Linked DNA regions of Homo sapiens: region 2 is linked to region 1. The links come from fine-mapping of genetic effects on gene expression. A gene starts in region 1. The other region holds a variant in brackets. All regions are shown on one strand. Distances are between the middles of the regions.

Region 1 (5,367 bases):
GCTGGGATTACAGGTGTGAGCCTGGTCGAGTTCTGTTTCTATTGCTGAGTGAAGAGTGTTATTTTGTGGTGACAAGGACCATTCTAAGTACTAGGTGTGTCGTTTCTTATTTAGTCCTATGAGGACTCTGAGAGGTAGCTACTATTAACCTTTCTATAGGGGAAGAAACTGAGGCACAGAGTAAATTGCCCAAGATGAACCACTAGCAAGAAGTCAGCAGGGTTGTCCATCTGCTCTGTCAATGTCGTTTAATCTTTAGGAAGAATGAAAAAACCTGATTGATTTTATCAAATGCAAGGGACTGAATGTTCATATCCTTGAAAATTCATATGTTGAAATCTAATCTCAATTCGATAGTGTTAGGAGGTGAGGCCTGACAGGTGATTAGGTCATGAGGGCAGGGCCCTCATGAAAGAGATTAGTTAGTGCCTTTATTAAAGGGACCCTCTTTGAGCCGTGTGAGGGTACAAAAAGTCAACAGTCTGCAACCCAGAAGAGGGCCCTCACCAGAACCTGACTGTGCTGGCACCCTGATCTTGAACTTTCAGCCTCCAAAACTGTGAAAAAATAATTTCTGTTGTTTATAAGTCACTCGGTCTACAGTATTTTGTTGTAGCAGCCTGAACTAGACACCAAGTTTAATTGCTGTGGGGTGAGAGTCCAAGGGAAGAAGGAAGCCAGGGAGGAAATGGGGGTTTAGGAATGATTTACATGAGGAAATCCCTGGCAGGGACCTGAGTGTTCGAGTGCACCAGCACTCAACTCTGAAGCTTCAGTTCTCTTTAGAACTCTGCATAGCAATGGGAAACTTGCCCATTCAATGGGTGCCTCGCATTTCCAGACCACACAGCTTTGAAAAAGAAAGGTTTTAGACCTTTGGAGAAGTGGACAAGCGTATGCCCTGGGGTTGGTCTAAGTTGTTAGCAGTTTCACTTAGCCGTTTCATAACCAGGCCTTGGCATAAGCCTCCCCAGGTTCAAATCTCAGTTTCCTTACTTATTAGCTGTATGACCTGGAGTAATTCAACCTCTGACTCTCAACTCTTCCAGCTGTAAAAGGGGCTAACAATGCTCATCTCCTAGGCTTGTGGTCAGTATTAAATGTCTTGTCTACAGACCTTTGCACATGCTGTTCCACACAGCTGGGAGTGGGGCGAGGCTACTCATCCTTCATGCTAACCACTTTGCTCTTTTGCGTGCACCTTTAGATTCAAGAAGGTAGACATCATGTTAGTCTTATTCATCATCCCAGCCTACGCAACAAAGCAAGACTGTGTCTTAAAAACACAAAAACAGGCTGGGCGTGGTGGCTCACACCTGTAATCCCAGCACTTTGGGAGGCTGAGGGGGGCGGATCACCTGAAGTCAGGAGTTCAAGACCAGCCTGGCCAACATGGTGAAACCCTGTCTCTACTAAAAATACAAAAATTAGCCAGGCATGGTAGTACACGCCTGTAATCCCACCAGGAGGCAGGAGATCACCTGAGATCAGGAGTTCAAGACCAGCCTGGCCAACATGGTGAAACCCCATCTCTACTAAAAATACAAAAATTAGCCAGGCATGGTGGTATGCGCCTGTAATCCCAGCAGGAGGCAGGAGAATCACTTGAACCTGGGAGGCGGAGGTTGCAGTGAGCTGAGATTGCACCACTGCACTCCAACCTGGGCGACAGATTGGGACTCCATCTCAAACAAAAACAAAAACACAAAAACTAAAACAAAATAGAGGTATGTGCAAGATGCTGGAAAACCACGCAATAGAGTGTTTGAGGAACAGTCTTTGGTCTTGAATTTATTATAGGAGAATGTGGCAGCCACAGAAGCTGCTTGGATCTGCCTTTATAAAATGACTGAACATGGTGGGAGCATTGGAACCCGGATACTTCTGCCCAAGGAGACTTCTCATTTTTTTTGTCCTGGAATTCCCTGATGGGTTGACCTGTTTGTCAGATCTGAGTCTCCTTGCCCAACCCTGCTTATTTCCCCTTCTCTGTCACGGGCATTACCCCTAGCTTTATCTCAGCATCTCATCTGCTTTCTGGAGGACCTGATCTGACCCAGAAGGCCTGGATTCTTGAGGGACAAGGGGAACTCGAAGCTGTACTTGCAGAGCAGTTTTATATAAAATCCACAAACTGCCATCACCCATCCCAACGGGTAGGGAAGTACCTCTAGGAGGATTAATTTAGAGAATAGCTATATAGTGTCTGTCTATTCAGACACTCAATAAATGGTAGTTGTTATTATTACCCAATTTCCGAGTGTGTGGGAGCACTGGGTGTGACTTTCCTGTAGTTTTCCCTTTAATGTCTAATCTGGGGACCCCTCTGCCCCATGCAGTTTTGGAAAAGTGTCTAGGGAGGGTGGCTGTGTGGAAGTAATATTAAGAGAGATGGAACCACACAGGTATTGGGTTTGGGCCAGAAAGGGTGAACTGCGAGCTGCACTGCCATTGATCCAGAGGACGACCCCAGGAAAGGTCAGCCACGGGCTCCGGGCCTTGCCTGGTACTGATTTATGGTCCTCCTGGGTGGTGACCTACAGGTGACAGACGGACAGGTGGGCAAAACTGACTGTCCAGTGGACAGGCATGTGATGACCCAGTGGCTGACGAATGCACAGACACATGGCTGACTGTGGACGGATTTGTCATCCGCAGGGTCAGGCAAGTGACTTTGAGAGGGACAGAAAGATGGATGGGAGTGGCTGGAGGCCTGGGAGCCGCCCACCTGCCCGCTTAGCCGCGAGGGGGCGCCACCGCCCCGCCCAGCGACGCCCACTGCCCGGGCTCTTGGCGGGGGCGGGACCAGCGTGCGCAGGGGGCGGGGCCAGCAAGCTCGCGGGGGTGTCCGGGGGCGGGGCGCGCGTGCACAGGGGGCGGCCGGGGGCGGGGCGCGCGGCGGGCGCGGGCGCGGGCGCGCGCGGCGGCGGCGCGTTCCGTTCCGGGCCGAGGCTCGCGGCGGAAAAGTTGCGGGGCATAGACGAGCGGCCCCGGGACGGGCAGCTAGCGCGACCCTGAGCCGGCGCCCGTGGTCCGGCCATGGACGACCTCGGTGAGTGAGCGGGAGGCCGAGGGAGGAGGAGGCGAGAGGCGCGCAGCTTGGGGCCAGGAGGGCGCCAGCGAGCGGCAGGGGCCGCGGGATCCCACCCTCGGCGGCCCCGGCCTCAGCTCCTGTCCCTGCCGGCCGGGGCTCCGCGGGGCTGGGATCCCTAACCGGGCCTTAGTCTCGGGCCAGGCCGGCCCCGGCACCGACCGCACAGCAGCGACCCCCCGTCTGGGACGGCTTCACCTCTGGACCCCCGACCTCGGGGACCCATCACCATCTCCCAGAAGGGCCCCAGGGACCAGCCCGCCCCTCAGGGACCCACCCCGTCCGCTGCAGGGACGAGACTTCCTGCGGCAGACCACCTCGTCAGCTACGGGACCCTCACCTCGCAGACCTCTCCCCACCCCCACCTCACAGATCGACCGCCCAACTCGGGGAGCAGCTGCCCGATCTCATGGGCTGCTCCCTCATTTCCTCGACCTGCTCCCCGTCCCTCCAGGGCCGCCCCCCACTTCACAGACTAGCACCCCCCTTCAGGGATAACCCCTCGGAGCCCACCCCTTTCATTTCACAAGTCAGATGCAAAAGCTAGAGATGAGCGTGTGATGACCACACCCCCATTTCAAAGACAAGTTTCCCAGTCTGCCTGCTCTTCTGACCCCCCACTTCAAATCTGGTCACCCCGTTTCAAGGACCCATCACTCATTTTCTCTCACTGACCTCCCCGCTCTGTGGACCAGCCCCTCAATTCACAGACCAGTCCGTCTACCATGGTATCTAAGTCTAGAACGGTAATTTGGGAGTCCTGATTCTCTCCCCACCCCTAGATTCTGGTGAAATGCCAGGGGAATGAGGTGGAAGGTGGGCCCCAAGGTATGACCATCCCTGAACGTGTCCTGGCTAGCAGAGTCCCCTCCACCCTCTCTGCGTCAGGCCCTGCTGGAAGCCACGCAGGTGAAAGAGGACAGGATGCCCAGAACAGAGTTTTACTGTTTTCCTGTTATTGGAGCCCCAAGGCTACTCTTTTCAGTCCAGTCTTGATCTGGTGTTAGGGGAAAGAAAGTATCTCCTGGAAGCCGACTCTAAACCCAAGGGGGTTGGTGCCAGGGTTCTAGGAATGCCTTGGGTGGCGTGAACGCAGGAGTGGGAGGATTCGCTGTCTCTCCCTCCCCTTCACGCCTGTAGCTGGAGGGCCCTGAGCTTGGGAGGTGAGGAGGGGGGCAACGTTTCTTCTCTGCAGGAGCCTTGTCTTTCCTCTCTGGACTGTGGGTGGCTTGTGTGACCACTGATGCTTCCTCTGTCCCAGGCTCTGAGGAGTAGATTCAGCAGACAGGACTGATGGACCTCTACCAAGCAGCGCCGGGCACTAAGTTAAGACTGGCTATTTGTAGGTGCTGGACTTGACTGCTTCCCTCCAGCTTCCTTTTGGGATCAGGGTGCCCCTGAGATCCTGGAGCTGGGGTTGGTGTAGGGTCCTGCCTGTTTTGCAGAGTGAGATGGCTGCCAAGCGTGGTTCTGCCTTTGGGTCAGGCTTGGCACCCATTTTTCCAGTGTGCTCAAGGTTGGCATGGCTTCCAGGCAGGTATTTTTTTTTTTCACATAAAAATAGCTCAGCTGGAAGGAGGCTGGGGGATGTTCTTTGAACCAGGATCTAAGAGTCTGAGTGCTTTCCCAGTGGGAACTGGGAGCAAAGTTACAGTTTCTAAAGTGCTGGTGCAGTTCTGTTGCTTCTCGGCAGTCCCCGTGCTGTTTCAAGGACTGAGAAAGTCTTTGTAGAGCTCGCCATCGAAATCTGGAATTCCTGTCTTCTGACAGTCTTCCATTTAGGGCCAGGAAACTGAGTTCTGAAAGGAAAGAGAGTACTGTATACGGGAGAGGGGATTGTAGGGATTTAAATTGCTGTTTGTGGAGTACTTCCCTCTACCTCGATTTGTGATATCCTCACAACAACCCTTTTATCAGATTCCACCTTAAAGCCAATGCTGTCATGACCACCTGCCTTTTTACAGATTGAGAAAGCCGAGACGAAGAGAGGCTGATTCTCTTGCCCAAGGCTGCACAGCCATGAAATGACAAAACCATAACTGGAAGCCCAATTCCTAGCTCCCAGATCTGTGGCTCTTGTATACCGAGAAGACTTTTTTTCCTGGGGAGGAGGCAAGGGCACTTGAAGGAGGGGTTGCCACTGGGTGATGGCGATCACCTGTAACTTCTACTGCTTTCTACCATAGACTCCCAGTTGCTTACATCCGGGCTGCCCGACTTCCTTGGCCTGAGCTCCCAAGGGGCAAGCCACGCCTGACTGACCGGAGCCTGGGGTG
Region 2 (5,367 bases), 33 kb after region 1:
TCTGTGGCTCAAGACCCCTCCTGAGGCAGAGGGTGAGGAGGAGGCAGAAAGAAAAGAGAACAGGAGACTTGGAGTGGGCAGCAGTAGAGCGGAACCCAGCAGGCCCGCCTTTTTGGATTCCTCTGGGGGCTCTGGGGATGTGTGTTGTGGGAGTGGAGAGTGGTGACGAGCAGAGGACGGACAGCTGCTGAAAGCGATCATTCCTCTCCTTGTGGGGCATCCTGGGAAGAACATGGGTGATCTCTGCAGTCAGGCAGCGCAGTCCTCGTGGGGCCTTATGGGGCGGCTCTGGGTGTCTGCATTCTAATCCCTGGCAACAAATGGGGCTGCAAGGCTGGGCTCCTGGTAGATGCTCAGGAAGGGTTGTTCCACTCCTCACCCCCTCCTGAGCTGCTTTCTAGCCTCGCAGCCCCGTCTTTGGATCCCTTTTTGGCACTCTGCTGGGCTCAGAGCTTCCGTGGCAGGAGCAGAGGCTGCTCTCTCCTGGGTTCCTCTGGGAGCTACCATGGAGCTTGGGCAGTTCCTTCTATTGTTGCGATTCTGGGTTCAAAGCCACAGGCCTCTCAGACAGCTGTGACTTCCCGGCAGGCAGTAGGGATGGGGTGGGGGTGGAGGCGTTGGGGCCCTGCAGCTTCCCTCGCTTGCCTCTGTCCTTGCTAGGCAGTGAGTTGGAGGCGCCTGGGCTCAGCTGATGTTCTCCAAGGAGGACTTGGAATGAACCCGAGACACAAAGGGTGAGGTCAGTGGTTTGCTCAGCAAGAAGGCTGAGTTAGTGACAACCTGTCACAGCTCCCAGGATCCCTGGCTGCAGTCCCTGGCTCCGACTCCTCCCCCTGCTGGCCTTAAGGGAGATGAAAATCAGTGATGTGGATCTATTGACTGAGTGTCTCCTGTGTGTCAGAGTGGGAGGCTTACGTTTATTTTATCCCAGCCACCAGGATGGCTCTCACATTCTTTTTCATCCATTACTCACTGTGCGCTATGAGGTGCCTGAGTAAACTAAAGCCCAGAATTATCTAGTCACTGGTCACCCAGGCTAGTGAGTGGCGGATTTGAACCCATCCTCCTCACTGTTAGATGGCCCATTCCTTCCACTCTACCACACTGCCATGCAGGTGGGATGCCCAGAGGGTGTCCAAAGAACTGTGTGACCATCCTAGCTCCCAACGACAGCAGACCAGCCAAATCTGTGATATGGGCAGGGGTGGTTTTATGTGTGGACAGTGGGGGCTTTGTGGTGCTGCTTAAAATTGTTTGCCAAAGTCCCCAAGAGCAAAATCTTATCTGTTTTTTTTGTTTTGTTTTTTTGAGACAGAGTCTTACTCTGTCGCCCAGGCTGGAGTGCAGTGGCGCAATCTCTGTTCACTGCAACTTCTGCCTCCTGGGTTTAAGCCATTCTCCTGCCTCAGCCTCCCAAGAGGCTGGGATTACAGGCATGCACCACCATGCTCAACTAAATTTTGTATTTTTAGTAGAGTAGAGATGAGGTTTCACCATGTTGGCCAGGCCAACATGGTTTCGAACTCCTGGCCTCAAGCAATCTCCCTGTCTCGGCCTCCCAAAGTGCTGGGATTACAAGCATAAGCCACCATGCAGGCCTTGAAGCCTCTCTTTTTATCTTACGATTTCACTTGCATTTTGCATTTGACTCCATAATGTAGCCTTGTTTGTTTTAAGACAATGATTTACATTTCTTGCCCCTGAGTACATTTGATCCTCAGAGTGTTCTGGGTTTATCCTGAGGTGGCTTCCTGTACCCCTGGCTTCCATCTGTCCCCTGGGGGTATGGATATCCTTGTGCGAGAGGCTCAAACCAGGTGAATGATGATAGAGGTAGTGGTGGGACACATTCAGTATTGTGAAGAAAGGCACGCTGGCAAAAAGGGAAGCGGGGAGTCCAGTTTGGCTGGAGACATGGGTTGCAGTGAGGGGGACCAAGGAGGCAGTGAAGGTTAGTTTGGGGCCATATTCTGAGAGGGTCAAGAACAGAATGCCATCCCCAGGGTTTCTGACCTTGTTTTATAGGCAGAGAGGGCAACAGTGGGTGAGTATTATAACTCCACCCCTTGCTCTGCACACATTCATTCAAGCCCCTCTAAGAGGCCTGTGAGGGCCGGGCACAGTGGCTTATGCTTGTAATCCCAGCACTTTGGAATGCCGAGGTGGGTGGATCACTTGAAGTCAGGAGTTCGAGACAAGCCTGTCCAACAATGTGAAACTTCGACTCTACTAAGAAAATACAAAAATTAGCCAGGTGTGGTGTGTACCTGTAGTTCCAGCTACTTGGGAGACTGAGGCAGGAGGATCATTTGAACCCGGGAGGTGGAGGCTGCAGTGAGCTGAGATCATGCCACTGCACTCCAGCCTGGTTGACAGAGCAAGACTCCATTTCAAAAAAAAAGGAGGCCTATGAGGGTATCCATGCTGTGGGGATTCAGGAGCAGGAGGATGTTCTTGCCCACAGAGGACCTGCAGTCTAGGGGGAGAAGCAAGAGTGAAGTGTGAGGCATGCCCCAAAAAGGCTGGGTGCCAAGAAGTTCGGGCCGATGGTGTGTGCAGGAAGCGTTAGATTGGGAGAACCCAGGGCAGGGGGCTGCAGTCAAGTTCAGGTAGGCACTGAGCATGGATTCGAATGCTAGTCCAAGTGGTTGGCTGTGGTGATGAAAGGAAAGGGAGGCAAGTGATGACAGGGAGAGGCCCCGCGAAGGAAGAATTGATGTGACTTAGTGACCAGCTAAATGTGGGAGCTATTAAAGGGACTTAGAAAAGAGAACTGGGGAAGTCAGGCAAGCGAGAGCTGACTTC[G/A]GGAAATGACCTTGCTGCCTGAAAAAAGGGGAAGGTGCTGGCTGGTTAGTGAGAACCTGATTAGCAAAGAGTGGGTAACTAATGCTATGAAATCCACAAAAATCGCAAAAAAACTGCAGCTCATCTCAGGAACAGGCAAACTTTTGAACTTTTTGTTCGGGTCTCTGTGGGACGATGACTCACTTTGAGCCCCTCCTAACCTCTGTTGGTGATTAGCAGGGGTGAGAGGCCCAAGGAGCCGCCCTGCTCTGCAACAGATCAACTTGCCTGGAAGAGCCCAGATTGCAGGAATGGGCTGGGGTCGATTTGGAACAGCTGAGAACCTTTCCAGCCCATGAGTCTCCTGGGTTTGAGGCTGTCTTTTTTGTATGTGAATCTGGGTTTTACCCATTGAAGGAGCTGTGAGTTGGGCCTGGAATGGGGCCCTGGACTTGACCTGAAAAGGTCTAGCATCTCTGGGCGACCTAAAGAGGTGGATGACATCTGACCAATGAAATGTGTCCACAATGTTCTGGGACCTCTGGAGGAGGGAGGGCCCACTGATTCTGGACAGGAGAGATGAGTTATTTACAATATGAAAGAGACTCTGGGGATGGGCATGGTGGCTCCTGTCTGTAATCTCAGCACTTTGGGAAGGCCCAGGCAGGAAGATGGCTTGAGGCCAGGAGTTCAAGACCAGCTTGGGCAACATAGTGAGACCCTGTCTCTACAAAAAAGTTTTTAAAAGCCTAGTGTGGTGGCATGTGCTTTTAGTCCTAGCTACTCGGGAGGCTGAGGCAGGAAGATCCCTTGAGCCCAAGAATTCTAGGCTGCAATGAGCTGTGATCAGGCCTCTAGCCTGAGTGGCAGAACAAGACTTGTCTCAAAAAAAGAAAAAAAGAAGAGAAAGACTCTGGTGTTTGGCCAGCCTGGCCTGAACTCCTGTGTCTGTAGCCTAAGGCAGATGCATAGAAGTGCTCAGAGTCAACCTGGGCAGCCTTGTCTCACCTGCTGTTGCTTAAGCTCCTGGAGCCCAATTTGATGGGGAAGTGGCTGCAGCCAGGAGCCTGATGGGTGGGCCTTGTGTGTGCCTGGTGCAGATGGGCCTGGCACAGTTGGTCTTCTGCCTGGAGCTCAGGGTGACTGCTGGAGTTGCCTTGCAGCCATTATTTTCTCAGGTCTCTGGTTACCTGTGCCCTGTGACCTTGGGCACAAGCCAGGCAGCCAATAAAGCCAGTCTGTCTGCACACTCATATTGTGTCACCCTCTGCAAGGAAGAGCTCCTCAGCATACAGGAAGCCACCCTCCTAAGCTAGGCCTGTAGGAAGCCTGGGGAAGAACCACTTCATCCAAATGACCACCCCCTCCTCCCCTGGCGGCTGACTGGAAGACTCCTGGGCCTTCTCCCCTGGCTTCCTGTGTGTCACCCCCCAGCCCACACTTCCTTCAGGGCTGTAAGGGTAAAATGCAGTTCCTGTTGAGTGAGGCATGAGTCAGCGGAGGAGAATTGGTGGCTGAGTCTTTGTAACCTCCAGGCATGGCTATTAAATATTTAAATGACACTATGGTATTGATCGTTTCTCATCCATCCTCTTAGCAGAGCAGTTCCTGTCTGGGATTCAGATAATAGCAGAATCTTGGATTTAGACTAACTCGGAAGAGCTCAAAGGTGCTATATAAATCTCACCCATAATTGTATTATCTCCTCAGAGCATGCTACTAGGAATGGGGACAAATCGGGTTCTGCCCATTTTCTTGATAGAGAAGACATCCAGAGAGGTTAGAGGATCCGCTGAGGGGCCCCCACTCATCCGCTGGGCCTGGGATCAGGGCATCCTGGCTCCCCTCCTCCGCACTGGCTGTTTGCTCTGCTCACTGCTGCTTCCCCATCCTCCTCCTCTTCACAGCCCCTCTGTCATTCAGCCATTCATTCTAGCTGCTGGGGATATGGCATCGAACAAGACCGACAAGGCCCCTGCTCTCTGGAGCTTAATTCTTGGAGAGGAGACAGTTGACAAGAACCCAAATTGGCAGGGAAGGCCCCTCAAGGAGACTGAGTTCCTAGTCAGTGTCCAGGCCCTAGGTCCCTGGGCTGGGGGTGGGTGGGGCAGAGTGGATCTGGCCTAATTGTGGATTGGCCCTTACTGAGGACAGACGGTTATCAGGATAAATATACCCAGCTCACCATTCCTGGGGACTTACTCACCGAGTGAAAGCACCCCGCTGCGGATTAGATTACCTCTGCTCTAACTGCTCATGTGCTCTGGGCTGGGGGAGGGGAGGGGAACTTGGAGCCAGGGGGAGGGGGGAGACCCGCCTTCCCGTTCTGTTTTCCTTCCTAATCTGGAAGAGTCTCACCAAAGGGGCTGAGATGAGACCATCCCTGAGCTGGTCCTGCTGTTTACATAGCTCCTTCCTTAGGAAGGGCCAAGCCCTGCTCACTGCTTATATCCCTGAGCGTGGGCAACTGTAAGGAGGCCGCAGCTTCTCTGACACTCAGAGCTACCAAGGCTGCCCAGGTGGTCATCAGGGGGTTGGGAACCTCCCTTGTCCAGAGTTCTGGACCCAACAGGATAGACAGGC

The links.
Region 2: its variant is fine-mapped to the expression of PXN in whole blood (TOPMed, PIP 0.98).

Annotation. Positions count from the first base shown.
Region 1 is chr12:120,263,302-120,268,668 of GRCh38, reverse strand. PXN (paxillin) reads left to right here and starts at 2,939. Exons shown (of 15, transcript NM_001385981.1): 1 at 2,939-3,052. The coding sequence starts at 3,040. RefSeq lists silencers at 2,632-2,911, 3,072-3,221.
Region 2 is chr12:120,230,350-120,235,716 of GRCh38, reverse strand. The region is part of intron 1 of PXN (paxillin); the gene reads left to right. Among named protein-coding and RNA genes, the nearest start is that of PXN-AS1, 32 kb to the right of the region's middle. RefSeq lists enhancers at 1,226-1,785, 2,906-3,465, 3,466-4,025, 3,505-4,704, 5,146-5,367. The variant G/A (reference allele first, on the strand shown) is at 2,806.